5 separate regions of the Homo sapiens genome follow, and regions 1, 2, 3 and 4 are each linked to region 5. The links come from fine-mapping of genetic effects on gene expression. A gene starts in region 5. Each other region holds a variant in brackets. All regions are shown on one strand. Distances are between the middles of the regions.

Region 1 (5,104 bases), 130 kb after region 5:
TCTACAGTGACTTTTGCATTAAGCAGGGTTCCTTAAATTGCAATCTGGCTTAAGAAAAAAAGGGGAATGTGTTAGTCATAGAATTGAAAGATCCAGAGGAGGAAGTGGGGCCTTCAGGCATAGCTGGATCCAGGTGCTCCATACATGTCTTTAGGACATATTCTCTGTCCACCTCTCCTCTGAGTGGATTTCATTTTTGGGTAGCCCCCAGTGTGAACGAATGCTAGTAGAAATGAAACATCTTTTTCCTAAGAGTTTAATGACGTATTCTGGGGAGAGTTCCCACTGGGCCAGCTTGGGTCATGTGCCCATTTCTGAACCAATCAGGGTGGGTGGTCAGAAGAATGAAATACATGGGCCTGAGTCACATGGCTACCCTGGGGCCCCTCTCCTCCAAACCCACCCACTGCTACCCCAAGTCAGGGAAGGGCAGCCCTATTCAAAATAAGTGGATTAGAGGAGAGGTGGTTCCCCTGGAAAAGCAAAAAGAGTGGAGAAGGAATGATGGACAGGGACAAACCACACATTCCAGTCTGGTTTGTGAAACTGTAGCTCCCACATGAGCTACTAGAGAGAGAAAGTGAATGGATTTGGAAGAAAGCCTGTCATTCCTTCACTAAACAAAGCTCTTAGCTTCCCCCAGACTTTGACCACCAGGCTTTGAGCAGGCATGGTGGGAGCTAATTGGATCTGATCTCTGTCTGCCTCCCCAAGTTGCTGCTGAAGGACTGGGCAGTGTCTTTTTAATATCCATGCCCAGTGATTTGCAACTGTGCCTCAGAATTCCTAGGATATGGGTTAAAAATACAGATTTTTGGATTTCCTCCAGATTCACCAAATCAGAACCTCCAGGGCTTAGATTTGGGCATCTGCACCGTTATTAGCAAACCCAGAGAGACTGAAGGTCCCATTGGTTAAGAATCATAGATTTAATGCCTGGCATGGTGTTTAATGCCTCAGCAAATGTCTGTTGATTGAATGAGTTACTAAATGCATGCATGATTTAATGATGACTTGTCTATAGGTATAATTTTTTTTTTTTTTGAGACGGAGTCTCACTCTGTCACCTAGGCTGGAGTGCAGTGGCACGATCGTGGCTCACTGCAGCCTCAGAGGTCTGCTTTTTTGTTCTAAGTCTATTCAGATGTTCTATTCTTCTCGAGTCAATTTCAGTAGTTTATGTCTTTCTAGGAATTGGTCTATTTCATCTAAATTATGCTAATCTGTTGGTATATAGTTGTTCCTAGTATATCCCTTATACTTTTTCCATAAGATCTGTAGTAATGCTCCTTTTTATATTTCTGAGAGGTCTGTTTTTTGTATCTCAAACTGGTCCCCTCTTCCCTTCATCCCTAACGAGATGTGATTGTGCCTTTTAATAGGTTAAGCAGCTGACCTGGCGCGGTGGCTCACGCCTGTAATCCCAGCACTTTGGGAGGCCAGGGTGTGTGGATCACTTGAGGTCAGGAGTTTGAGGTCAGCCTGGCCACCATGGTGAAACCCTGCCTCTACTAAAAATACAAAAAAATAAAAATAAAAATTAGCCAGGCATGGTGATGCATGCCTGTAATCCCAGCTATTTTGGAGGCTGAGGCAGGAGAATTGCTTGAATCTAGGAGGCGGAGTTTGCAGTGAGCCGAGATTGTGCCACTGTACTCCAGTCTGGATGACAGAGTGAGAACCTGTCTCAAAAAAAAAAAAAAAAAAGGTTAGGCAGCCATCTCTAAAGGCAATTTTGGGGTCTCAGAGTACCCCATGGTCCTAAATATCCTCCACCTACTCAGTGGGGCCTGAGAGTCCTCCCCATAGGTCAGGTCTTTCCCCCCCACAATCAGAGGATAGATAGTATGCTACGGTCCTGGAGCAAAATTCACAGTAAGGAGCAAATGAGTGGTAACTGATAACTTCCCAAGAGGAAGTGGAGGATGCAAAGATAGAATAAGAATGCTCTGCTCCCAGGGACTCCCCTACCTTGTGTGGTGGCTATGGAGACACTCAGGAACACCCAGAGCTCAGACTAGCAGAAGCAAGCAAAAAGCCCAGGATGCAACATTTTAGGAGGCTCTTCTGCTCAGGCTTGTGGAAACACAGGGCTGGCACCTGAGAGTGAGTGCCTCCTTACATTTCATGCCCCGGTTGCTTCACTTGCTTTACCCCAGTGTTGGCCCTGCAGAAACCGAATGTTTCTTAGAACATACTTTGAAAACCTCCAGTGAAATTAAATCCCCTTGCTGTTAGGAATATTTTTTTGTAGTTGTCTCTTTTCAGTGCTTATGGGAGCACTTTACGTGGTCTTTTAAAAAAACTTAAAAAATAATTTTATTAAAAAAAAATAAACCAGATGTGGTGGCTCACATCTATAATCCAAGCACTTTGGGAGGCTGAGGTGGGAGGATCATTTGAGGCCAGGAGTTTGAGACCAGCCTGGGCAACATGGTGAAACTCTGTCTCTACTAAAAATA[C/CA]AAAAAAAAAAAAAAAATAGCTGAGTGTTGTGGCCTGCACCTGTAGTCCTAGCTGCTCGGTAGGCTGAGGTGGGAGGATCACTTGAGCCTGTGATTGCACCATTTTATTCCAGCCTGGTTGACAGAGCGAGACCCTGTTTCATAAAAATAAAAAATAAATTCTACTGTGTATATTTAAGGTATATAATATATTATTTGATACATGTAGATATTAAAGTGGTTACAATAGTGAAGCAAGTTAACATATCTGTTATCTCACATAGTTACCCATTTTTGTTTTTGTGACAAGAACCTCTAAAATCTGCACATTAGCAGGAATCCCAAATACAGTACAATTTTTTTTTTTTTTTTTGAGACGGAGTCTGGCTCTGTCCCCCAGGCTGGAGTGCAATGGCACGATCTTGGCTCACTACAACCTTCACCTCCCAGGTTCAAGCAATCCTCCTGCCTCAGCCTCCCGAGTAGCTGGGACTACAGGTGTGCGCCACCACACCCAGCTAATTTTTTGTATTTTTAGTAGAGACAGGGTTTCACCATGTTGGTCAGGCTGGTCTCAAACGCCTGACCTCACTCAGGTGATCCACCCATCTTGGCCTCCCGAAGTGTTGTGATTACAGGCATGAGCCACTGCGCCTAGCCCCAAATACAGTACAATTAGAGTCCCTGGAGTCCTGATGTTGTACCTTAGGGCTCTAGACTTGCTCATTCTCCATATCTGCTACTTGCTATCCTCTGACCTCCATCTCCCTGCTCCCTTTCCCCCTCACCCCCTCTGCCCTGGTAACCACTGTTTTATTCTCTATCTCTGTATATTTGACTTTCTTTCTTTCTTTTTTTTTTTTTTTGAGACTGAGTCTCATGCTGTCACCCAGGCTAGGGTGCAGTGGCGTAATCTCGGCTCACTTCAACCTCTGCCTCCCAGGTTCAAGCGATTCTCCTGACTCAGCCTACCAAGTAGCTGGGGATTACAGGTGCCCACCAACATGCCTGGCTAATTTTTGTATTTTTAGTAGAGATGGGGTTTCACCATGTTGGCCAGACTGGTCTCGAACTCCTGATCTCAGGTGATCCACCCGCCTCAGCCTCCCAAAGTGCTGGGATTACAGGCATGAGCCACTGCGCCCAGCCTTGACTTTTTTTTGTTTAGAGTCCACATATAAATGAGATCATGCAATATTTTTCATTCTGCGTCTGGCTTATTTCACTTAGCGTAATGTCCTCCAGTTTCATCCATGTTGTGGCAAATGGCAGAGTCTCCTTTTTTAAGGCTCAGTAATATTTTATTGTGTATATATATGCACACACACACATATGTATCCACATATACATACATATATATACCTATATGCATATATGTATACACACATGTATACATACATATACACATACATATATACACACATATAAGTATGTGCATATATATACACACTCACACACCCCAATTTCTTGTTTTTGAAACAAAGTCTCACTCTGTTGCCCAGGCTGGAGTGCAGTGGCGTGATCTCGGCTCACTGAAACCTCTGCCTCCCAGGTTCAAATGATTCTCTTGCCTCAGCCTCCTGAGTAGCTGGGATTACAGACACCTGCCATCATGCCTGGCTAATTTTTGTATTTTTAGTTGAGACGGGGTTTCACCATGTTGGCCAGGCTGGTCTTGAACTCCTGACCTCAGGTGATCCACCCGCCTTGGCCTCCCAAAGTGCTGGGATTACAGGTGTGAGCCACTGTGCCCAGCCCCCACTTTCTTCATCCATTCATCTGTCAGTGAATACTTAGGTTGTTTCCAAATCTTGGCTGTTGTGAATAATGCTGCAGTGAATGTGAGACTGCAGATGCCCTTACGAGGTGGTGATTTTATTTCCTTTGGGTGTATGCCCAGGAGAGGGATTGCTGGGTCATATGGTAGTTCTATTTTTAACTTCTTTAGAAACCTTCATCCTTTTATTCCATAATGGCTGCACCAATCTACATTCCCATGAACAGTGTAACCAATCACATCGCCTTTAAAAAACAACTTTTAAAAAAGCTAAGACAATTTATAAGACATACAGGAAAGTAGAGGGAATAAAATAATGAGCAAATCTATCACTTTGATTTAATAACTGTTAACATTTGCTTTATTTGCTTCACCATTTTTCCCCTGAAGTATTTAAAGGTGAATTACAAGTGTCACGACATTTCACCCCTAAATACTTCAGTTTGCATATTTTAAAATTAAACTTTTTCTTTCACAGTCATAAGACCAGTATTACACCCTACAAAATGAATAATATTTCCATAATATTACACAATACCTAGTCCATATTAACACGTACCTGGTTGGCCCTAAAATGTCTTTTAAAGGTAGATCCAGTCAAGGTTCACATAATTGTTAGGTCTCTTAAATTTCTTTAATCTAGAACAGTGGCTCTCAATTGAGGGTGATTTTGCCTCCAAAGGGACGTTGTCCCCAAAAGGAGACACTGTTGGTTGTCATAACAGAGTTGGAGGTGAGGGTGCTACCTGCATGTAGTGGGTATTTAATATCCCACAAAGCATAGGACAGCCCCCTATAGCAAAGAATCATCCAGCCCAAAATGCCAGTAGTGCTGAGTTTGAGAAACCCTGCATGAAAACAGCCCCACCCAATTTTTTTTTCATGC
Region 2 (5,104 bases), 85 kb after region 5:
TTAGTAATGTCTGCCGTGGGATCAGCCATGGGGAACTAAATATTTGCCATGCCTGGAATTGGAAATACCAGAGGGAAAAGAGGGAGGGAGAGACAACAACTTACAGTTCAAGGAAAACTCTTTGGTGATGGCAGAGGTGCTCTGAGAGGGAAGGGATGGACTGTGGCTGTGAAGATGTGTGTGGTGTTGCATCCACCCAAACTGAAGATCTCTGGAGATAGAACAGCAGGCTAGAGAGTGCACAGGCCCTGGATTAAATAAAATTTTTGATTTTTTGTTTGTTTCTTTTTCTTTTCTTTTCTTTCTTTTTTTTTTTTTTTTAAGACAGAGTCTCACTCTGTCACCCAGGCTGGAGTGCAGTGGTGTGATATCAGCTCACTGCAGCCTCCACGCCCCAGGTCCAAGCAATTCTCCTGTCTCAGCCTCCCGAGTAGCTGGGATTACAGGCATGTGCCACTATGCTGGGCTAATTTTTGTATTTTTAGCAGAGACAGGGTTTTACCATGTTGGCCAGGCTGGTCTTGAACACCTGACCTCAAGTGATCTGCCTGCCTTGGCCTCCCAAAATGCTGGGATTACAGGCATGAGCCACCACACCCGGCCTGTTTTTTTGTCTTTAGAGACAGGGTCTTACTCTGTCACCCAAGCTGGAGTGCAGTGTCAGTGATCATGGTTCACTGCAGCCTCAATTTCCTGGGCTCAAGTGATTCTCCCACCTCAGCCTCCTGAATAGCTGGGACCACAGGTGTGTGCCACCACACCCAGCTAATTTTTAAAATTTTTTGTAGAGATGGGGTCTCACTATGTTTCCCAGGCTGGTCTTGAACTCCTGGGCTCAAGCAATCCTCCCACCTCGACATCCCAAAGTGCTGGGATTACAGGCATAAGCCATCCTTGCCCAGCGTGAAAGAAATTTTGTATTCAAATTCTGGCTCAGTCATTTATTTGACCTGTGACCTGGGGCATATCATGTGACCTCTCTGAACCTCAGTTTCCTCTTTTGTAAAATGAGGAGAAGGCTATTGGGATGATTGCTGAGTGCCTACTCTTGACATGTGGAGCCCTGACTGAGGGAGGCAGTGTTGTCAGCACCACCGCCTTACAGGACCCTGGGGATGGCGTTCACTGTATTGTCTGTGTAAGTGGCGCCCCCTGGTGCACCAACATGAATGGCGTTTCCTGGAATTGTGCAACATGGCAGACTGGATCATGAAACAGAGGCCGGGAGAGGTTAAACCACTTGCCCGAGTCACATCGCAGAGGTGGGATTTGAGATCAGGTCTGTCTGCCTCCACCGCCCAAGCCTATAACCAGCATGCCCTCCTGCCTACTACCAATTTACCACATCTGCAACAGTTCAGCATCCGTGACTGCTTGAATGTCGGGAGACCGCTTCAGCTGTGTAACCTCCTCACGTGGCTCTTCCCACAAGAGTGTGCAACAAATGAGCTCACGCCTGCAAAAATCTCTAGGACACTCCCTTGAGTGTGGTGGCCACTCGGGCAGGGAGGGCTGAGCGTAAAAATCAGAACAGTGAGGAGGAGGCTTGCTGGGAGATTGCCCCCACTTGAAGTTAAGTGTGAGAGGGGAAATCCTAAGAGAGAGAGGTGACAGCCCTCCCCGGAGCATTTTCTTTCTTTCTTTCTTTTTTAAACTTTTTAAATTAAAAATAATTTTTTTTAAGACGAAGTCTCATTCTGTCGCCCAGGCTAGAGTGCAGTTAGCAGGATCTCAGCTCACTGCAACCTCCACCTCTCTGGTTCAAGCGATTCTCCTGCCTCAGCCTTCAGAGTAGCTGGGACTACAGGTGCATGCCACCATGCCCAGCTAATTTTTGTATTTTTAGTAGAGACGGGGTTTCACCATGTTGGCCAGGCTGGTCTCGAACTCCTGACCTCAAGTGATCCACCCACCTCAGCCTCCCAAAGTGTTGGGATTACAGGTGTGAACCACCACGCTGGCCCCCAGGGCATTTTCAATAAAAGGGAAAAGCCCAGGAGGCCTTGGCCCAGAGGCAAAGAAGTAAAGGGAGCCGGGCAAACAATGTAGGGAGTGGTGGGAGGCGTGCTCAGCTCCCAAAAGGACTGCTGGGTCTCCAGATGTATCAGTTAGGGTCCCCTGGAGACAGTCACATGGGAGTGACAAGCGAGTGTGTGGGCAGGATGGGGAGAGCCAGCAGGGATGGCGAAGTGCCTGGGACTGGCAAGTGCAGGGGAAAGACTGTTCTGGAGTCTGAGATCAGAAGCTGTGAGAGAGGGGCTCCCTGATAGGAGCTCTCAATAGAGGAATAGCTACCTGCATCTGACAGCGCGGGGCAGCCTCCACAACCTCATGGACTGAGCGCCGGGAGATGGAATGACCCTCCAGAGGGAAATTGATGTGCTCTTACAAGAAGGCGGAAAAAGACAACAGCGGGTCCTTACACAGCCCTGAACAGGATAATTTTTCTTTTCTTTTCTTTTCTTTCCTTTTCCTTTTCCTTTTTTCTTTTCTTTTCTTTTCTTTTCTTTTCTTTTTTCTTTTCTTTTCTTTTCTTTTCTTTT[C/CTT]TTTTCTTTTCTTTCTTTCTTTCTTTCTTTCTTTCTTTCTTTCTTTCTCTTTCTTTCTTTCTTTTTTTTCTTTCTTTCTCTCTCTCTCTCTTTCTTTCTTTCTTTTTTTGAGACGGAGTCTTGTTCTGTCGCCCAGGCTGGAGTGCAATGGCATGATCTTGGCTAACTGCAACCTCCGCCTCCCGGGTTCAAGTGATTCTCCTGTCTCAGCCTTCCGAGTAGCTGGGACTACAGGTGCCCACCATGCCTGGCTAATTTTTGTGTTTTGTTTTGTTTTGTTTTTTGAGATGGAGTCTCACTCTGTTGCCCAGGCTGAAGTGCAGTGGCACGGTCTCTGCTCACTGCAACCTCCGCCTCCCAGGTTCAAGCAATTCTCCTGCCTCAGCCTCCCAAGTAGCTGGGATTACAGGCACGCACCACCATGCCTGGCTAATTGTTGTATTTTTATTAGAGATGGGATTTCACCATGTTGGCCAGGCTGGTCTCAAACTTCTGACCTCAAGCGATCCACCTGCCTCGGCCTCCCAAAGTGCTGGGATTAAGGTGTGAGCCACCGTGCCTGGCCAATTTTTGTATTTTTAGTAGAGATGGGGTTTCATTATGTTGGCCAGGCTGGTCTCGAAATCCTGACCGCAAGTGATCCACCCACCTTGGCCTTTCAAAGTGCTGGGATTACGGGCATGAGCCACCACGCCCAGCCCAAACAGAATAATTTCAGAACATGCTGGCAGCTCTCAAGTTTTTTTAGTTTGATGACTATTGATTTGATCAGCTTTTATTTTCTGGGACATTAAATTGTATGGAATTTGGTGGAAGTTTAAAAGGGCACAGATTCTGGGCAGGGTGGGTGGCTGGGGGGAGGGGGCCAAGGGCTGAGGCCATGGGTGTTTAACTACAGCTCTTCCTCAGGTGGCCTTTGTGTTCAAGCCACTGATGCTCCCAGAAGGTGAAAAACGCACCATCCCCAAACTCCCTGCCGTTATTAATCAGCAAACGTGTCAGGGGCAGGTGCGCATGAGTGAATTTTGGGGTCACAGAGGGTAATCAGGTCTGGCCGGGCTGAAGCAGGTGACCCGACTGTCCGCCTGATCCTGAGCTATTGGATAAGGAGATTAATCTAATTCTGTCTGAGGAGAGGATGGCTTTTTGAGAAAGCGTGGGACTCAGAAAATGAAAGTTGGATTTAGACCTCAGGCTAAATTCCCAGCTCCGGGGCCAGCGTGACCTGAAGCGTGTTCCCTGGGTATCTTTTGGCAAGGCTGTCATTGTGCTTGAGCACCCAGTATGTGAGGGAAGAAAACACAGAGCTCAAAGGGGCCTGGGAGGAATGGAAATAGGAAATTGGGGCGGGAGCTGGGGCGAAGTGGGGAGTCCATGCCCTCCTCGAGGGGTTAATTAAGACCCAGTGCTAGCTGACCGTCATGCCTAGAGTCAGACATTTGGGGTTCAGATCCTGGTTCTGCCCTTTACTCGTCGTGTGACACTGGACAAGTCACTTCACCTCCTTGTGCCTCAGTTTTCTCATCTGTAAAACTGAACAATAGCAGAACCCATCTTGGCCGGGTGCAGTGGCTCACACCTGTAATCCCAGCTCTTTAGGAGGCTGAGATGGGTGGATCACCTGAGGTCAGAAGTTCAAGACTGGCCTGGCCAACATGGTGAAACCCTGTCTCTACTTAAAATACAAAAAAAAAAAAAAAAAAAAAAAAATTAGCCAGGCGTGGTGGTATACATCTGTAATCCCAGCTACTTGGGTGGCTGAGGCAGCAAAATCGTTTGAACCCGGGAGGCGGAGGTTGCAGTGAGCCGAGATCATGCCATTGCACTCTAGCCTGGGTGACAGAGTGACACCCACTCAAAAACAAACAAAAAAAACAGAACCCATCTCACAGAGTTGTTCTGAGGGCTGAGTGGGTGAAAGTTCTGCAAGTGCTTAGAACAGTGTGTGGTGCATAGTAAAAAGTATTATATGCCAGGCGGGGTGGCTCGCACCCATAATCCAGCACTTTGGGAGGCCGAGGTGGGAGGATCACTTGAGCTCAGGAGTTCGGGACCAGCCTGGTAACCTAGGGAGACACTGTCTCTACTTAAAAAAAAAAAAAAAAAAAATTAGCCGGGCATGGTGGCGCATGCCTGTGGTCCAAGGTACTCAGGAAGCTGAGGAGGGAAGATAACCTGAGCCTGGAAGTTCAAGGCTACAGTGAGCTGTGATCACGCCACCACATGCCAGCCTGGTGACAGAGTGAGACCCTGTTTCAAAGAAAAAAGGCATTATTTATAACATTTGCTAAATAAATTAGGTAAATAAGAATGTAACCCTTTTTGTTGCCAGATCTTCTAATCTTTCGAGGAAAGTGAATCTGGAAATCCAAATTTTCATAATCCTATTAATGCCAAACACTCAGGCAGTTCCAAAACACCTTAATATGTTAAATATTAACAAAACGTTATGACGTAGATATGGTTATTACTCCCATTCTACAGATGGGGAAACTGAGGTACAAAGATGTCACATAATGAGTGCTGGGCTGGGCGTGGTGGCTCATGTCTGTAATCCCAGC
Region 3 (5,104 bases), 75 kb after region 5:
AAAACATTGAGACCCTAGGCTCAGGCTGTAGCCACTACCCTGCCTCTGCAGCATGAAGGCAAATATGTGGTCTGAATGGGAATTCATGATACAAGAGGGCAGTATTGTGTCAGCCTGGCCCTGGTTTTGGGACCTGAAACGTTTGGGGCATTTTTGGGTGGGTGGTAGGTGACAGTGAGATGTTTTGCTCTGACACATGCCCAGGGTCACCTGGTCCAATTCCTGCTCAGCTACTTCCAAGCCTTGTCACTCTGGCAAGTTCCCTAACCGCTCTGTGCCTTAACTTATCCTTCTGTAAGATGGGGATAACCACATTACCTGCCTCAGAGGTAATGTTGTGAGGGTTAAATGAATGAATGTATTAAAGAGCTCAGAGCAGCATCTGGTAAATATTTCATTACATTAATGTTAGCTATCATCATCATCATCATTGTCATCTCACCTGTTGGACAACCCATGTGTGTGTGACTGAGGAAATGGAGCATCTTTGGCGAATTCCCTCCTTCCCTTGCTGCCTGGATCTCATCTGGTGCAACTGAGCTGGTCTCTGCTGAATTATTTTACTTCTTTGTCCTCTGCAGCCAAATGGAGACCTCTCCCTGACTCTGCCTGGCCTTCAGACACTTTCAGAAGGCGGTTAACACCATCTGGCCTTGAGAATTCTGAGTCTTTATATTTCAGGATTGAGCTGAGACCTTTGTGAAACATCATCTCTGGGAGGGCCAGCCTGGGCCCAGCTCACAGACATAAGCTGTCCTCATATCCCAACTTCTCATTGACTCACACACGCACTCAGTGCTTTATTGAGCACCTAGTGTGTGTCAGTTGCTGGGCAAGGTGCCAGGGCTGTACTGTAGCAAGGAAAACAGGAGACAAGGTCCCTGCCATCATGAAGCTCATGTGCTACAGGGAGTGACAGACAGCAGGTAAGTAAACAATAACAAATGAATATATAATAGCAGAGAAAAATAACAGCAATGGAAACAAGCAAAGCAGGGGAAGAGGGTTAGACAGTGACTGGGATGGGGAGGTGGATGGTATGTGAGTATTTTAAACTCAAGGAGGTGCTTCTTCCTGGGATGCTCTGGGATATTCTGGGATACCTGAGATAGCCAGGTAAAATCCACTAGGAATTCGTTGCTGACACTGAGGCAGGAGAATAGCGTCTGCAGGCAGGGAAACTAAGGTCAGTTCATGCTGACTTCCTAGAACTAAATCAAAAGGAAAGTCCCAACTTTCCAAGCCCAAGTAACAAAAGGACCAGAGGAACAAAGGACCAGAGGCTGGACTGTGCCCAGCCTGTTCTTCCTACAATCTTTATGCAGATATAGATGAATGTGAAAACAAGAGAGTTTTAAAAAGTCTGAAAGGAGCTAGTTAGAATGTCAATAGAGGTTGCTCACAGAACTGTAAGAGGCAGAGGAGATAGAGGGTGGAACTTCGTTTCTGAGCCTGGCTGCCTGGGTTCATATCCTAGCCTTGCCACTTGCTAGCTGTGAGAAGAGGGCAAATCACTTCACCTATGTATGCCTCAGTTTCCTCATCTGTAAAATGGTGCAATAATGACATGCAGGTATGAGATTATCTTCCTATTTATAAAGCACTTCCAACAGATCTAGTACGTAATGAATCCAATCTAAGTGTTTTTTTCTAACTGTGTTGAAACAAGTGGGCATGAAAAGATTCCTTTTCCACCCTGAGCTACAGATTGAGAAGTTTTTGGGGCTGGGTTCTGCTACCTGTATTAAATATATTTTTTTAAATTAAAAACCTTTTGTTATAGAAAATGTTGAACATACATGAAAGTAGAGAGAATGTTACCTTTTTTTCTAAATTGAGATGGAGTCTCGCTCTGTCGCCCAGGCTGCAGTGCAGTGGCGCGATCTCGGCTCACTCCAAGCTCCGCCTCCCAGGTTCACGCCATTCTCCTGCCTCAGCCTCCCGAGTAGCTGGGACTACAGGCGCCCGCCACCACACCTGGCTAACTTTTGTTTTTGTATTTTTAGTAGAGACGGGGTTTCACCGTGTTAGCCAGGGTGGTCTCGATCTCCCGACCTTGTGATCCACCCGCCTCGGCCTCCCAAAGTGCTGGGATGAGCCACCCACTACAGGCGCCCACCACCACGCCCGGCTAATTCTTTGTATTTTTAGTAGAGATGGGGTTTCACAGTGTTAGCAAGGATGGTCTAGATCTCCTGACCTCATGATCTGCCCGCCTTGGCCTCCCAAAGTGCTGGGATTACAGGCGTGAGCCACCGCGCCCGGCCAGGTGTTTGTTTTTATCCTCCTATTTTTTCCATTTCTAGCACTTTCCATATCTGTAAAATAGGATTAATAATAGTACCTATCTCATAGGGTTATTGTGAGAATTAAATGAATTAATGCTTATAAAATGCTTATAAAATGTTAAAAAACACGGCCTCCCAAAGTGCTGGCATGAGCCACCATGCCCGGCCACAATTTTTTATTTTGTTTCTTTTCTTTTAAGACAGAGTCTTGCTCTGTCGCCCAGGCTGGAGTACAGTGGCACCATCTCAGCTCACTGCAACCTCTGCCTCCTAGATTCAAGTGATCCTCCTGTCTCAGCCTCCCGAGTAGCTGGGACTGCAGGCATGTGCCACCATGCTCCACTAATTTTTTGTATTTTTAGTAGAGATGGGGTTTAACCATGTTGGCCAGGCTGGTCTTGAACTCCTGACCTCAAGTGCTCCATCTGCCTTGGCCTTCCAAAGTGCTGGGATTACAGGCATGAGCCACTGCACCTGGCCTATTTTTTTATTTTCTTGAGACATGGTCTCCCTCTTTTACCTAGGCTGGAGTGCAGTGGCACGATCATGGCTCAGTCACCTCAAACACCTGGGCTCATGGGATCCTCCCACCTCAGCCACCTGAGTAGCTCAGACTATGGGTGTGCACTACTGCACCCAGCTAATTTTCTAATTTCTTTTGTAGAGACGGGGTCTTGCTATGTTGCCAGGGCTGTTCTTGAATTCCTAGGCTCAAGAGATCCTCTTGCCTCAGCTTCCCAAACTGCTGGAATTATAGGCATGAG[C/T]CACCTTCCTTGGCTCAGAATATTATAATTAACCTTTGTACACCCATTGTTCATGTCAATGATTAGCAACTCATGGTGACACCTGCATTTTTAACAAGGCCCTGGTGCACACTACATCTTGAGAAACCCCCAGTGGAATTCCAGGACGCTCCTGAGGCTGTTACTGGAAAGGGGTCCCGATCCAGACTCCAAGAGAGGGTTCTTGGATCTCTCGGAAGAAAGAAGTCGAGTGAGTCCATAGAGTAAAGTGAAAGCAAGTTTATTAGGAAAGTAAGGGATAAAAGAATGGCTACTCCATAGACAGAGCAGCCCTGAGGGCTGTTAGTGGCCCTATTTTTATGGTTATTTCTTGATGATATGCTAAACAAGGGGTGGATTATTCATGCCTCCCCTTTTTAGATCATATACGGTAACTTCCTGACATTGTCATGGCATTTATAAACTGTCATGATGCTGGTGGGAGCGTAGCAGTGAGGACGACCAGAGGTCAAGTCTTGTTGCCATCTTGGTTTTGGTGGGTTTTAGCCGGCTTCTTTATTGCAAACTGTTTTATCAGCCAGGTCTTTATGACCTGTATCTGCCTACCTCCTATCTCATCCTGTGACTTAGAATACCTTAACCATCTAGGAATGCAGCCCGGTAGGTCTCAGCCTCATTTTACTCAGCCCCTATTCAAGATGGAGTTGCTCTGGTTCACATCCCTCTCACAAGGCCTGTTGGATACATGTTAGTTTGTTGGGATTTTGCTAGACAAATTGCTAATCTTGAAATCAGAAAAGATGATAACAAAAAACTTTTTTTCTCTCCCAAGAAAAATTTTGTCTGCTCCTAAGAAGAGGATTTTCTGTCCAAGTTCAGTGGACGAGAGCACCAGACACCCCCTGGAAAGACTCAAGATTCCAGCCCTGTCCTGTGGTCCCTTCAACTGACAGCAACCACTCACTCCCCAGCCCCACTTACTATCAAGGGAGCCCAGGGCCTGCTTCACCCAGGCCCTGGGAACAAGATTTGAGAAGCAAATGAATTGTGTGAGTTAATTCAAGGGCCACCTTTGGCTCCCTTAGCAGCACAAATTGTCCCTGAGGACATTGACTCGATTCTTGGATACAAAGGGAGATACGAATTTACCTTTGACTGCTCTCTGGGCATTAAAGCTGGTCTTGAATGTTTTCTCTGGGCGGTTCCCTGTCATTAGGGAGGTGCCCACATTTACCAAATCAACGAGCCCGATTTCACCTGGTCACACCCTTCCTTGGCACAGAAAACAGTGACTTCTTTTTCCTCCTGCTAATTTGCTGTCAAGATGTTCTACTAATCATCATCATAATTACTAATATTCACTGCCCACTTAGTAAGCTCTTTATACCCATTAACTCAATTCATTCTTGCAACGACCTTGTGAGGTGAAACTATTGTTACCCACAGATCACAGAAGAGGACACCGAGGCCTACAGAACTGTGGCAAAGACTGCTCCATGTTCCCAACATCCATTTTTTTCCCTCTTTCAAAGTAAAAGAAATCCAATTTTACTAGGGAACATGGCTGTCCAGAATTCCCAGCCTCCTTTGTGGGTAAGTGTGGCCATGGGACTCTGGTATGGGCTAAGGATGTCGGGGGAAGAGTCCCGCAGTGGTTCTGAAACACTCTCTCTAAGAGGTCACTGCTTCTTCATCCCTTCTTTTATTCTGGCATCTGGAACTTGAAGGCCACCATCTTGAACTGCGACGTAGGAGTGCCCTGAATGGAGGTGCATCTGGCTGGGAGGATACCATTGACCACCATAACCAGGCCTAGTTAAGAAAGAAATAAGCTTCTTCCTTCTTTATTCTTCCTTTTTCCTCCTCCTCCTCCTCCTTCTTCTTCTCCTTCTACTTCTCCTTCTTCTTCTTCTCCCCGTTCCCCTCCCCTTCCCTTTCCCCCTCCTTCCCCCTCCCTCCTCCTCTCCCCCTCCTCTTCTTCTTTCTTCTTCTCCCTCTCCTCTCCCCTTCCTTTCCCCCTCTCCCTCCCTCCCCCTCCTCCTCCCCTCTCCCCAGTCCCCTCCTTCTTCTTCT
Region 4 (5,104 bases), 670 kb before region 5:
CTGGATTCTTCTCCTTCTATGGGGTCACCTCCAGAACTGGGTCATCTCTGACCTTCTGACCTCCCCCTCAAGCTCTCACATCACCTAGGTGTCAAGGGTGGGATGAGAATGTGGCAGACCTCATGTTTCTATTTCCCCGAAGATGGTCAGGGGCAGGCCGGGCGCGGTAGCTCACAATTTGGGAGGCCGAGGCAGGCGGATCACTTGAGGCCAGGAGTTCAAGACCAGCCTGGCCAACATGGCGAAGCCCTATCTCTACTAAAATTACAAAAATTAGCCTGGTGTGGTGGCACACGCCTGTAGTCCCATCTACTCGGGAGGCTGAGGCAGAATCACGTGAATCCAGGGGGCAGGGGTTGCAGTGAGCCAAGATCATGTCACTGCACTCCAGCCTAGGTGACAAAGCAAGACTCCATCTAAAAAAAAAAAAAAAAAAAAAAAAAAAAAAAAAAAAACGGCTGGGCGCGGTGGCTCACGCCTGTAATCCCAGCACTTTGGGAGGCCGAGGCCAGCAGATCACCTGAGGTCGGGAGTTTGAGACCAGCCTGACCAACATGGAGAAACCCCATCTCTACTAAAAATACAAAATTAGTAGGGCGTGGTGGCGCATGCCTGTAATCCCAGCTAACTCGGGAGGCTGAAGCAAGAGAATCGCTTGAACCCGGGAGGCGGAGGTTGCCGTGAGCCAAGATCGCGCCATTTCACTTCAGCCTGGGCAACAAGAGCAAAACTCTGTCTCAAAAAAAGAAAAAAAAAATCGGGAGCAGAGGGGCCACGCTTGAGTTGGATTTGCTCCTCCTGGTGTCTGGTGCCTCCCCGACCTCCGTGCTGGGCTCACTTCTATTCAGCTGGAGGAGGCCCAGACCCACAGGTGTGTGGCCACCCACTGGGAAATAGGTGTCCAGCCAGGAGCTCCATTTTAATAGCCACGAACTGGTACAGCAACACCATCTCCATGGCGACGGCCAGCCTGGGACCACGAATGAGAACACAGGCTCACTATTGGCCCCAGTGGAGGCTAACTGGGCAGAGGAGAAGCAGCACCTGTGAGTGGAGTTTGTTCTCCTGTCCCTCTCTCAACCTTCCCTAGTCTGTGGCCATTGGAAAAGCTTCTGTGAGGACTGTTCTCCAGGGAAGAGGGAAATCTTCCCAAGAGAATGCAACCATCTTTTATTCCTTTGCTTACAATCTTCCCATGGCTTCTCAACTCACTCGGAATAAAATCTAAAGAATTCTCCTAGGTGGTGCCATCGTAAGCGGCTTGGTTTAAGCAATAGCTTGGTGGTCACAGAAAACAAATAGTAGTTAAGTACCAAGGTGAGCTGGCAGCCTCTGTGGGCCAAGTCGCACATCCCAAATGAGCAGGTCTTCTGGTGGGACTGAGGAAGGAACCAAGGTAAGAATAGGAGCTCAACAATTACCTAGATAGAGTCTCCACAGCCCAGACAAGCCAGGACTAGAGAAGTAGACTTCAGAAATCCCTGGAATTTCTGGCTTTTGGGAAGACCTTGTAACAGATCACTGTATTTTGTCTGCCTACCCTCCTCACTTCCTTTTCCCATTTTGTCTGGTAACAGGATCTTCCTTCCTAAGGAAAATCCACTGGATGTGGTTCAGTAGGGCTCACACTGCTCCGTCATCTTCTCGAACTCCAGACCTCAGGTGATCCACCCACCTCGGCCTCTCAAAGTATTGGGATTACAGGGGTGAGCCACTGCACCCGGCCGGCTCAGTCATCTTCTCCCTATTTCCTGCCACAGGAACCAGCACATGACCCAGACTGGCCAATGGGATGACACCTTGGCCCAGGCGGTGATTGGTTCAGGGATGGATATGTAATTCACACCCAACCAATCAGAGTCTTTCCCGGGACTTTCCTAACAGAGCATCAGGAAAGACTTGTTGGCTCCTCTGAGGTTGCTAAGAAGAGAATGTAAGGATTTCATGCTACATAGAGAGCTGTTCAAGAAGGAAGCCAAAGGCCGGGTGCGGTGGCTCACGCCTGTAATCCCAGCACTTTGGGAGGCTGAGGCAGGCGGATCACCTGAGGTCGGGAGTTTGAGACCAGCCTGACCAACATGGTTAAACCCTGTCTCTACTAAAAATACAAAAAATTAGCTGGGCGTAGTGGGGCATGCCAGCTACTCAGGAGGCTGAGGCAGGAGAATCGTTTGAACCCGGGAGGCAGAGGTTGTGGCGAGCCAAGATCGCGCCATTGCACTCCAGCCTAGGCAACAAGAGGGAAACTCCGTCTCAAAAAAGAAGAAGAAGGAGAAGGAGAAGAGAAGAAGAAGAAGAAAGAAGAAGAAGAAGAAGAAGAAGAAGAAGAAGAAGAAGAAGAAGAAGAAGAAGAAGAAGAAGAAGAAGAAGAAGAAGA[AGAAGGC/A]GGCCAAATAGAAGCAAATGGAACCAAGACGTAGGGAGAGAGAACCTACCTGATGACATAGTGTGAACCCTTATCTTCATCCATGTCCAAGGACAGCACAATCTCTTCAACTGCCCAGTTACATGATTCAATAAATTCCCCTTTGAGGCTTTGTGGTTAACGTAAGCTGGGTTTCTGTCACTTACTGCGCAAACAATCCTGGCTAACATAGACCTGCTTAGCATCCTATCTACATAAACCTGCAACGCTAACTCCTCTTGTAGCTGCATCCCTGCCTCTGACTCCAGATCTGAACTTAGTTGTGAGAATAGAAGAAGCTGGACAGGTTCTTGTTTAATTTCCCCCATAACCAGTCCCCAGTTTCTATCCCAGTTTCAGTAACTGAGGCCCTGTCTCCTTATTCTGGCTCTTTATCCTTCCAGCCCCAGTAGGGACAGCTGGCCAAAACCTGCCACTTGCTACTGTAACCTGAACATTGCTCTAGCCTGTCTGGATTGCCACCTATGGTCCACACCAGTACTACTTGGTGCAAACTACTTCCGCCAATCCCTACACCCCATTGGTATACCCGCTACACAGATGGCTAAGTCATGGTTACATAAACTTAAGGCTTCACACTGCAACTTAAGGCAGCATTTCCCAAGCTGTGTACTGTGAGACTCCATTTGGTGAGATGATAGTAGATAGTCCATTAACAAAGAGGAAAAAAGCAAACTGGCAATAGTTTTTTCTTCAATTTTATATTTTAAAATATAAACTGTGGAGAAACGTTTTACATGGAGGTTATCTTCTAAAGACGGCACTTCAGATAAAAATCATGGCTCATCGCCAGGCACGGTGCCTCACGCCTGTAATCCCAGCATTTTGGGAGGCCAAGGCGGGCGGATCACGAGGTCAGGAGATCGTGACCATCCTGGCTATCATGGTGAAACCCTGTCTCTACTAAAAATACAAAAAATTAGCGGGACATGGTGGCGGGCGCCTGTAGTCCCAGCTACCCGGGAGGCTGAGACAGGAGAATGGCCGGAACCCGGGAGGCGGAGCTTGCAATGAGCCGAGATCACACCATCGCACTCCAGCCTGGGTGACACAGCGAGACTCCGTCTCAAAACAAACAAACAAACAAAAAAACCCATGGCTTATCAAAATTGCCTTTTAAACCCTTAAATTGTCCACATAGCACAGCAAACAACTCCTTCTTCCCAGTGGGTCCACTGGAGCCAATTTCTAGCTCCGGAACAAGTTGCTGTTATTACAGTTTTGCTCCAGGTGAAGGTGAAGGAATTGGCTTATTTTAGGGGTCATGTGGCTGAAAATTATGTACCTAGATTTAAAGGCAGAGCAGCAAGATGCTCACTCTGTGAGAAGCACATGAGAACAGAGAATGATGGAGGGAACCCCCAGATGCAAGTATCCCATTTCACACTTACTCCAGGGAACCCAGTTGCTGAATAATTGTACTAGTTATATTATTCTCTCTCTCCATGTCCCCATGGAACATGTATAACTGAATTTGAGGGAGTTAAATACATGTAAGTTATGATTTCATCATGTGAAAGAAAAATATTCATCATTATAAGGTGTTCTCATAGTAATGTTTTTATATATACAATGATCTGCTTTTAAAAAATTGTGGGCTGGGCATGGTGGCTCACACTGTAATCCCAGCACTTTGGGAGGCCAAGATGGATGGACTGCTTGAGCTCAGGAGTTCAAGACCAGCCTGGACAACACGGTGAAACCCTGTCTCTACCAAAAATACAAAAAAATTAGCTGGGCGTGGTGGTTCCAGCTACTCAGGAGGTTGAGGTGGGAAGACTGCTTGAACCTGGGAAGCAGAGCTTGCAGTGAGCCAAGATCATGCCATTGCACTCCAGCCTAGGTGACAGAGTAAGACCCCATTTCAAAAAAAAAAAAAGAAAAAGAAAAAGAAAAGAAAAGAAATTGTAGGTCAGGAACGGTGGTTCACACCTATAATCCCAGCACTTTGGGAGGCCAAGATAGGAGGATTGCCTGAGGCCAGGAGTTTGAGACCAGCCTGGGCAACATAAGGAAAGCCCTGTCTCTACAAAAACAATAAAAAATTAGCCAGGCGTCATGGCATGTGCCTATGGTCCCAGCTACTTGGGAGGATGAGGCAGGAGGATCACATGAGCCTGAGAAGTTGAGGCTGCAGTGAGCTGTGATCACGCCACTGCACTCCAGCCTAGTGACATAGTGTGACCCTCTCTCACTTTTTAGAGAAAAAAGTAAGAAAGAAAGAAATTGTATGCTGGGCCCAGGAATGTCAGGAAGTCCCATCACCTGCTACATGGAATTATGACATGTAATCCCTGTATTAATGCAGAAGGGGGCATTTACTAATTATGCTCTTTTCCATTGGTCCTATGATAGCTGCTCTAAGTAATATGTCTTGTTTTCGATTTCAGCATGTTTTGTTTTGTTTTTGTTTTTGTTTTTGAGATGGAGTCTTGCTCTGTCATTCAGGCTGGAATGAAGTGGCATGATCTCAGCTCACTGCAACCTCCACCTCCCAGATTCAAGCAATTCTTGTGCCTCAGCTTACCGAGTAGCTGGAATTATAGACACACACTACCCCGCCCAACTAGCTTTTGTATTTTTAGTAAAGACGGAGTTCCACCATGTTGGCCAGGCTGGTCTCAAACTCCTGACCTTAGGTGATTTGCCTGCCTTGGCCTCCCAAAGTGCTGGGATTACAGG
Region 5 (5,104 bases):
TTTAACTTAGATATCTACATATCCTCAATGGATCATCTTCAACTGTTTCTCTGCCAATTTAACACCCACGAGAAAAAAAGAAATTTAAGTATACTTTGCAGTTAGCCTATTCCCAAGGCATTAAAATGCACTGCTTTATTAATTTCAGCAAAAAATGAAATATAAGAAAACCTGGTTTTCAAGTGCCACATAACAAGAGGAACTATTAAGAAACAATGATCTCATTTTAGATGTATCATTACTTACCAGGCAAAGTACTTATTACAATTTTAAAGATCAAAATTAACAAAAGCTGTTTATGAATAGAGGCAGTTATGGGCAAACCAGAACTTAAATTAGCAAGCCTTAGATGATCTTAAAATTCTAATGTTTCTAATCCATGCAAATTCCAACTTTTCCTGTTTCCTCAGAGAAATAAAGCCACACATATCCCTGCAGAGATAAGCAGAATTTTAAAATTTAGAAAGAAAATATTTAACAAAAAGTTCCTTTCTTACAGCAAACTATTTTAATCAGTTTCTGACCAACTGCTGCCTCGAATAAATTAAAGAACTATATTAACTAGTATGAAAAAGTATGGTTCTTATATAAATACCTGGCATTAAAAGAATGACAAGGTTTTCACCTACAATACAAGGTTTTCACCTGCAATAACATTTCAAGAGCATTTCAGGGGTCCTTAATGACATTTAGTGTTTTTTTTGTTGTTTTTTTTTTAAAGACAGCATAAAAGGAAAGAATGCACAGATTAAGAAAAGGACGAGATATTTTCAGGAGCTTCATTTTAATAACTTACTTTAAAAGATCTGTAAATTCTAACACCAGAGCTGTCCAACTGTTCATGCCCTCGACTCCACCACTCACAGCATTTATAGTCCAACAATATTTTAGGACTGTATAAAGGCAAAAAGCAGTTGAAACTGCCAAGTTCCCATTATGAAGTGTCCAAGTTAGGGGATATGACTGAATTCTTACAAAGTCTTGGATAAGATGTTAGCATCCGTTGACATGCCCTTGAATCTGAAAGCAGCTCATTTCAGCTTCCGTCTTTAAAAGCTGAACCTCGCCCCTCTCCCACATCAACATGAATCAATTGCCAGGCACCTCACAAGTCTTAGATGAGCCGAAATTTAAAGCTTTCTATTAACCTTTACTTAACCACTGGCCACCTTCCTTCCTACATAAGGTGACAGTGTTGTCTGTAGAGGGTTCTAGCTCCCGGCTATGTGGATTTGAAATCCAACTGTCACTAACTGTGTGACCTTGGTTAAGTGACTTCATCTCAGTTTCTTCTGTAAAATAACAAAAACAAAAAAAATTGCAAATATCTTGCAATGGGTGGGAGAATTAAATGAAATCTGTCTTAAGTGCTCAAAGAATGCCTGACACACAGTAAGCGCTTTAGAAGCGTCAGTTATGATTACAGTAATAATTCATGGACGCAAAGTGCTTAAGACAGAGCCTGGCACATTGGAAAGATAATGATAGCGTCAGCCTCGTTGGCTTCCTCTTCAGATGCACGCTCAGGAAAAGAGCGCGGAGACCTCTCCAAGATTAGAACAACTTAAAAGGATTTGGAGGGCAGGCGAAGACAGGTTCTCACACCTCTTGAGACATGAACGCTTGTTACCAAGTAACAAGAAATGGGCCCCCCAAGACCCCAGAACCACGAAAAATAAAAATAAAAGCAAGCAGGAAAAGAGCCCCCAAACCCGGCGGAACTCATGCCCTCATCAAACTGCCTTCCGAGAGGACGAGCACCGAAAAGTCCATCTCGCACAGCACGGCACACGTCGTCCAGGAGGCTGGACTGGGATCCCCAACCATCGCTCCAAAGACCCGTCCAGTGCGCGGGGGCAAACGGGTAGGGGCGGGAAACGTGGGGGTGGGGAGCGGAGTTTTCAAATTCCACGGCCGGGAGGAAGCCTGCATCCTCGTGCAATGAATGAGCGGAGCCTGGAGGGTCCGCAGCTGGCGACAAGTTGGGAATCCCGGGCTGGCCTCCCTCCGGCTGCAGTCCCCGGCCCGTGGGCCAACTCGAGGAGCTCACTCCCCACGGTGCTGCAAGCCCAACCGGCCTCCCAACTCCCCTCCCTCGAGCCCCCGGGGCCGCCTGCCGCCCTCAGGCCCGCCTCCCCCTTCAGCCGCCCGCCGCCCCCCTTACCTTCCAGCAGCCGTTGGATAATGCTGTCGATGTTGAGTTTATCTAAATCCGCCATCGCCTTCCCACCGCCGACCCTCCCGCAGCGGCGCCGCCGCCGGCTCGCGCCCGGGACTCACACCTCCTTTCCCACGCCACGAGCAGAGGCGGTGGTGGCGGCGGTGGCAGCAGCCGCGGCGGGTCCCCCCCCTGCCACCCCGCTCCCTACTTCCTCCTTCTCTCCCCACTGGAACCACGAGAAGAACAAAATGGCCGCCGACTCCTTAGACAGCCTCGGGCGGCGCACGGATGCGCGCGGGGAGTGCAGCGGCCCGGCCGGGACTTCTTTATGGGCCATAGGGGGCGCGGGAGGGGGCGGGGCCCGGGCGCTGGAGGGGGCGGGGCCCGGGCGCTGGGCGGGGCGCAGATGGCTGAGCGCAACCGCGTCCCCGCATGGGATCCTTCCGCCAAACGGGCCGAGTAAATAGGCCCGCCCCCAATGCCGGGCCCGAGCGAGAGTTGCAAAGTTGCACGCGGGAGTTGGGGCTGGGGGAGGAAATGCAGCTGTGCACACCGCCGGTTGCGGCCATCGCCGGATCTTGTGCATTGAGTCTAGATGTTTGCAGACCTGGACAGGTGGGAGCTCACCGAGGGATTTCGGGGGTCCTGGAACTTACCCTTTAAGATAAATCTGGGGTGAGGATGGAAAAGAATAATAAAGAAAAGAAGGTTGACTTATTTTGGATTCAGATATACTGGAACTTGGGACAAGAGAAAGGTTTATTTGGTAACTAAAAAGAAAAAACCCTCTTTCAGATAAGTCAAAATGTAACAGTTAACTCATTGTGAGTGGTGGGTATATGGGTATTTGTATATATATTTTTTGTGCACTTCTGTAACTTTAGGGGTAAAAAATCCATACTCAAAGAAAATTTTATCATTTCTGTCCCTTGGATTTATCTTCCCTGAACTCGGAAAGTTATGTAATCATCGGGACGGTTATCCCGATTCTAGCCAGGGCAAAGTTGAACGAGCGCGTGCAGCAGTTAAAAGGGGAATTTGCAGATTTCACGCGTGCAGGCCGGGGGCGGGAAGAGAAGATGCAAGCTGCGCGGGCGGTCCTGGGTTCTGCAGACACCCGAAGAAACTTTGGCCCATTCCTCTCTGGCTTCCCAGCCTCCCCGAGGGCACTCCTATCCAAGGGGCCCCCAAACTGTGCCACCTCCAGGGGCTGCGCGTCGACTTTGGCTGGGTTTGGAAGTACAGCCCACACTCAGCAAACAGATCGGCTCTCTTTCCTGACCTTTCCATGTACGTTGCTTCCTGCAGCGCTTTACATTTTGCAAAGCCCCCTCTCTCCGAGAAATTCATTTTGTTTCCCAAGGCGTGCAGGATGCACGAATCCCCATCTCAGTATGCCACGAGGTAATTGCACCACCCAGGCATCCTCTTCCAAAGCAATGTCCTCAGGGTGCGGGCTCCATGTCCCCTTACTTGGGCCCCCTCGCTACTGGTGCAGGGCCCTTGAGTTTCAGAACTCAGCCTATCGATCCACTTTCCTCAGGCACTAACTCACTTTCCCCTGCTACAGCTCTGTCCACCAGAAGTCACATAAGTGCCATTTGTCAGGCCAAGGCAATGAGCCCAGTTGGTGACATTCGGAGTTGGTGCCCAGCGCTGCTGTGAACATCTGGCTATGGAGGTCAGGGGGGGCTCTTGCTGGAGTCCACAGGACTTTGGGCTACTCCAGGGCAGGGTGCATCATCGGAATGGCATTTAGGGTAGAAATATGAAAGACAGCAATTCATTCAGCAGACAAATATTTATGGAGTACCCACTCTGTGCCAGGCATTGTTCTAGACAGGGAAGCAGGGGTGATCAAGACAGACAAGGCTTTTTTCTATGGAGAGTCATTTAGTCAGTCAGATGGTAAGCAAAGATGCAAATAAAAATATCAGCTTCTGATAAGTGCAGTGGAGAAAAATAAACAAGAAAAAAAATGCTACTGTGTTCATTTCTTAGTATGTGCCAAAAAATGATCTCATTGAATCCCCAAGATAATCCTAGGAATTATGTCCTATTCCTATCATCCCCATTTACAGATGAAGAAAGTGAGGCACAGAGAGGCTAGGGTGGTTGCTGAAGGTCACACAGCCAGGAAGTTACAGAGTCAGGGCTGGAACTCAGGACAGCCTGAAACCACAGCCCTCGTTCATATTCAGTAAAACCCGGCAGTGAACCCCCAGCAGTGTTCACATCCCTGGCACATACTGGGCACATATCAATTTGGAACCCAGTGGAATGACTGAATTGTGTCTCTGCCCACAATACGAGTGCCATAATTTTCCTCATGCAAAATGGCAGGTGTGTTAACCTCTTGCAACATCATCAGGGCTGGAGGAGGACTTCAGACTGAGCTGGGACATGGGGAGAGCCTCTGTCCCCAGGTTGTTTTCTGCTGGGCAACTCCCCTCCAGAGTTCAGTTCTGCTGGCACATGCCTAAGTGATTAGCTGGCTCTGAGCCTGAGCATGGCATAGCTCACCAGGGTGGGCCCTCACAGCTCCCAGGAACCAGCAAATAGCCGGTGGAGGAAAGCACTGATTCCCTATTCGCCTTTTTCTGCCATTATCAGCACCAGTGGCTTTCCAAAGATGAGTTGATATAAGCATCCTGTCAGAAAGGATACAGCCTAATAAATGGAATGTCCCTTCCCCTCTCTAGGCCTCAGTTTGCCTATCTGTCAAATGAGGAGAGTGGATTAAAGTGCACTTTTCAAACTGTCTTTCCTGGCTCTACAGAGCTTTCTTAGGGGCTGCTGAAGATGATGGGGAGCTGATGATTAGAAGAGAGTGGCTGTGGCCAAATATTGGAAACTCAATAGTGTCTCTGAGGATACTTAGGCTTTGAGGGGGGATCCCAGTGCCTAAAGGGACCTGGCTGATAATACGAAAGAATTCAGCCT

Evidence for each region.
Region 1: its variant is fine-mapped to the expression of PPP1CC in whole blood (INTERVAL, PIP above 0.99).
Region 2: its variant is fine-mapped to the expression of PPP1CC in whole blood (INTERVAL, PIP 0.97).
Region 3: its variant is fine-mapped to the expression of PPP1CC in transverse colon (GTEx, PIP above 0.99).
Region 4: its variant is fine-mapped to the expression of PPP1CC in whole blood (INTERVAL, PIP above 0.99).

Annotation. Positions count from the first base shown.
Region 1 is chr12:110,874,417-110,879,520 of GRCh38, forward strand. All of the region lies in intron 5 of CCDC63 (coiled-coil domain containing 63), which reads left to right. Among named protein-coding and RNA genes, the nearest start is that of CCDC63, 30 kb to the left of the region's middle. The variant C/CA (reference allele first, on the strand shown) is at 2,463.
Region 2 is chr12:110,825,707-110,830,810 of GRCh38, forward strand. No RefSeq gene overlaps it. Among named protein-coding and RNA genes, the nearest start is that of CCDC63, 19 kb to the right of the region's middle. RefSeq lists a silencer at 983-1,032 and an enhancer at 1,213-1,282. The variant C/CTT (reference allele first, on the strand shown) is at 2,544.
Region 3 is chr12:110,815,613-110,820,716 of GRCh38, forward strand. No RefSeq gene overlaps it. Among named protein-coding and RNA genes, the nearest start is that of CCDC63, 29 kb to the right of the region's middle. The variant C/T (reference allele first, on the strand shown) is at 3,053.
Region 4 is chr12:110,065,950-110,071,053 of GRCh38, forward strand. It overlaps a transcript of C12orf76 not described here. Among named protein-coding and RNA genes, the nearest start is that of C12orf76, 20 kb to the left of the region's middle. RefSeq lists an enhancer at 4-83. The variant AGAAGGC/A (reference allele first, on the strand shown) is at 2,378.
Region 5 is chr12:110,740,489-110,745,592 of GRCh38, forward strand. It overlaps PPP1CC (protein phosphatase 1 catalytic subunit gamma), which reads right to left and starts at 2,403. Exons shown (of 7, transcript NM_002710.4): 1 at 2,165-2,403. The coding sequence starts at 2,219. RefSeq lists enhancers at 2,128-2,636, 3,398-3,982 and silencers at 2,274-2,333, 2,494-2,633.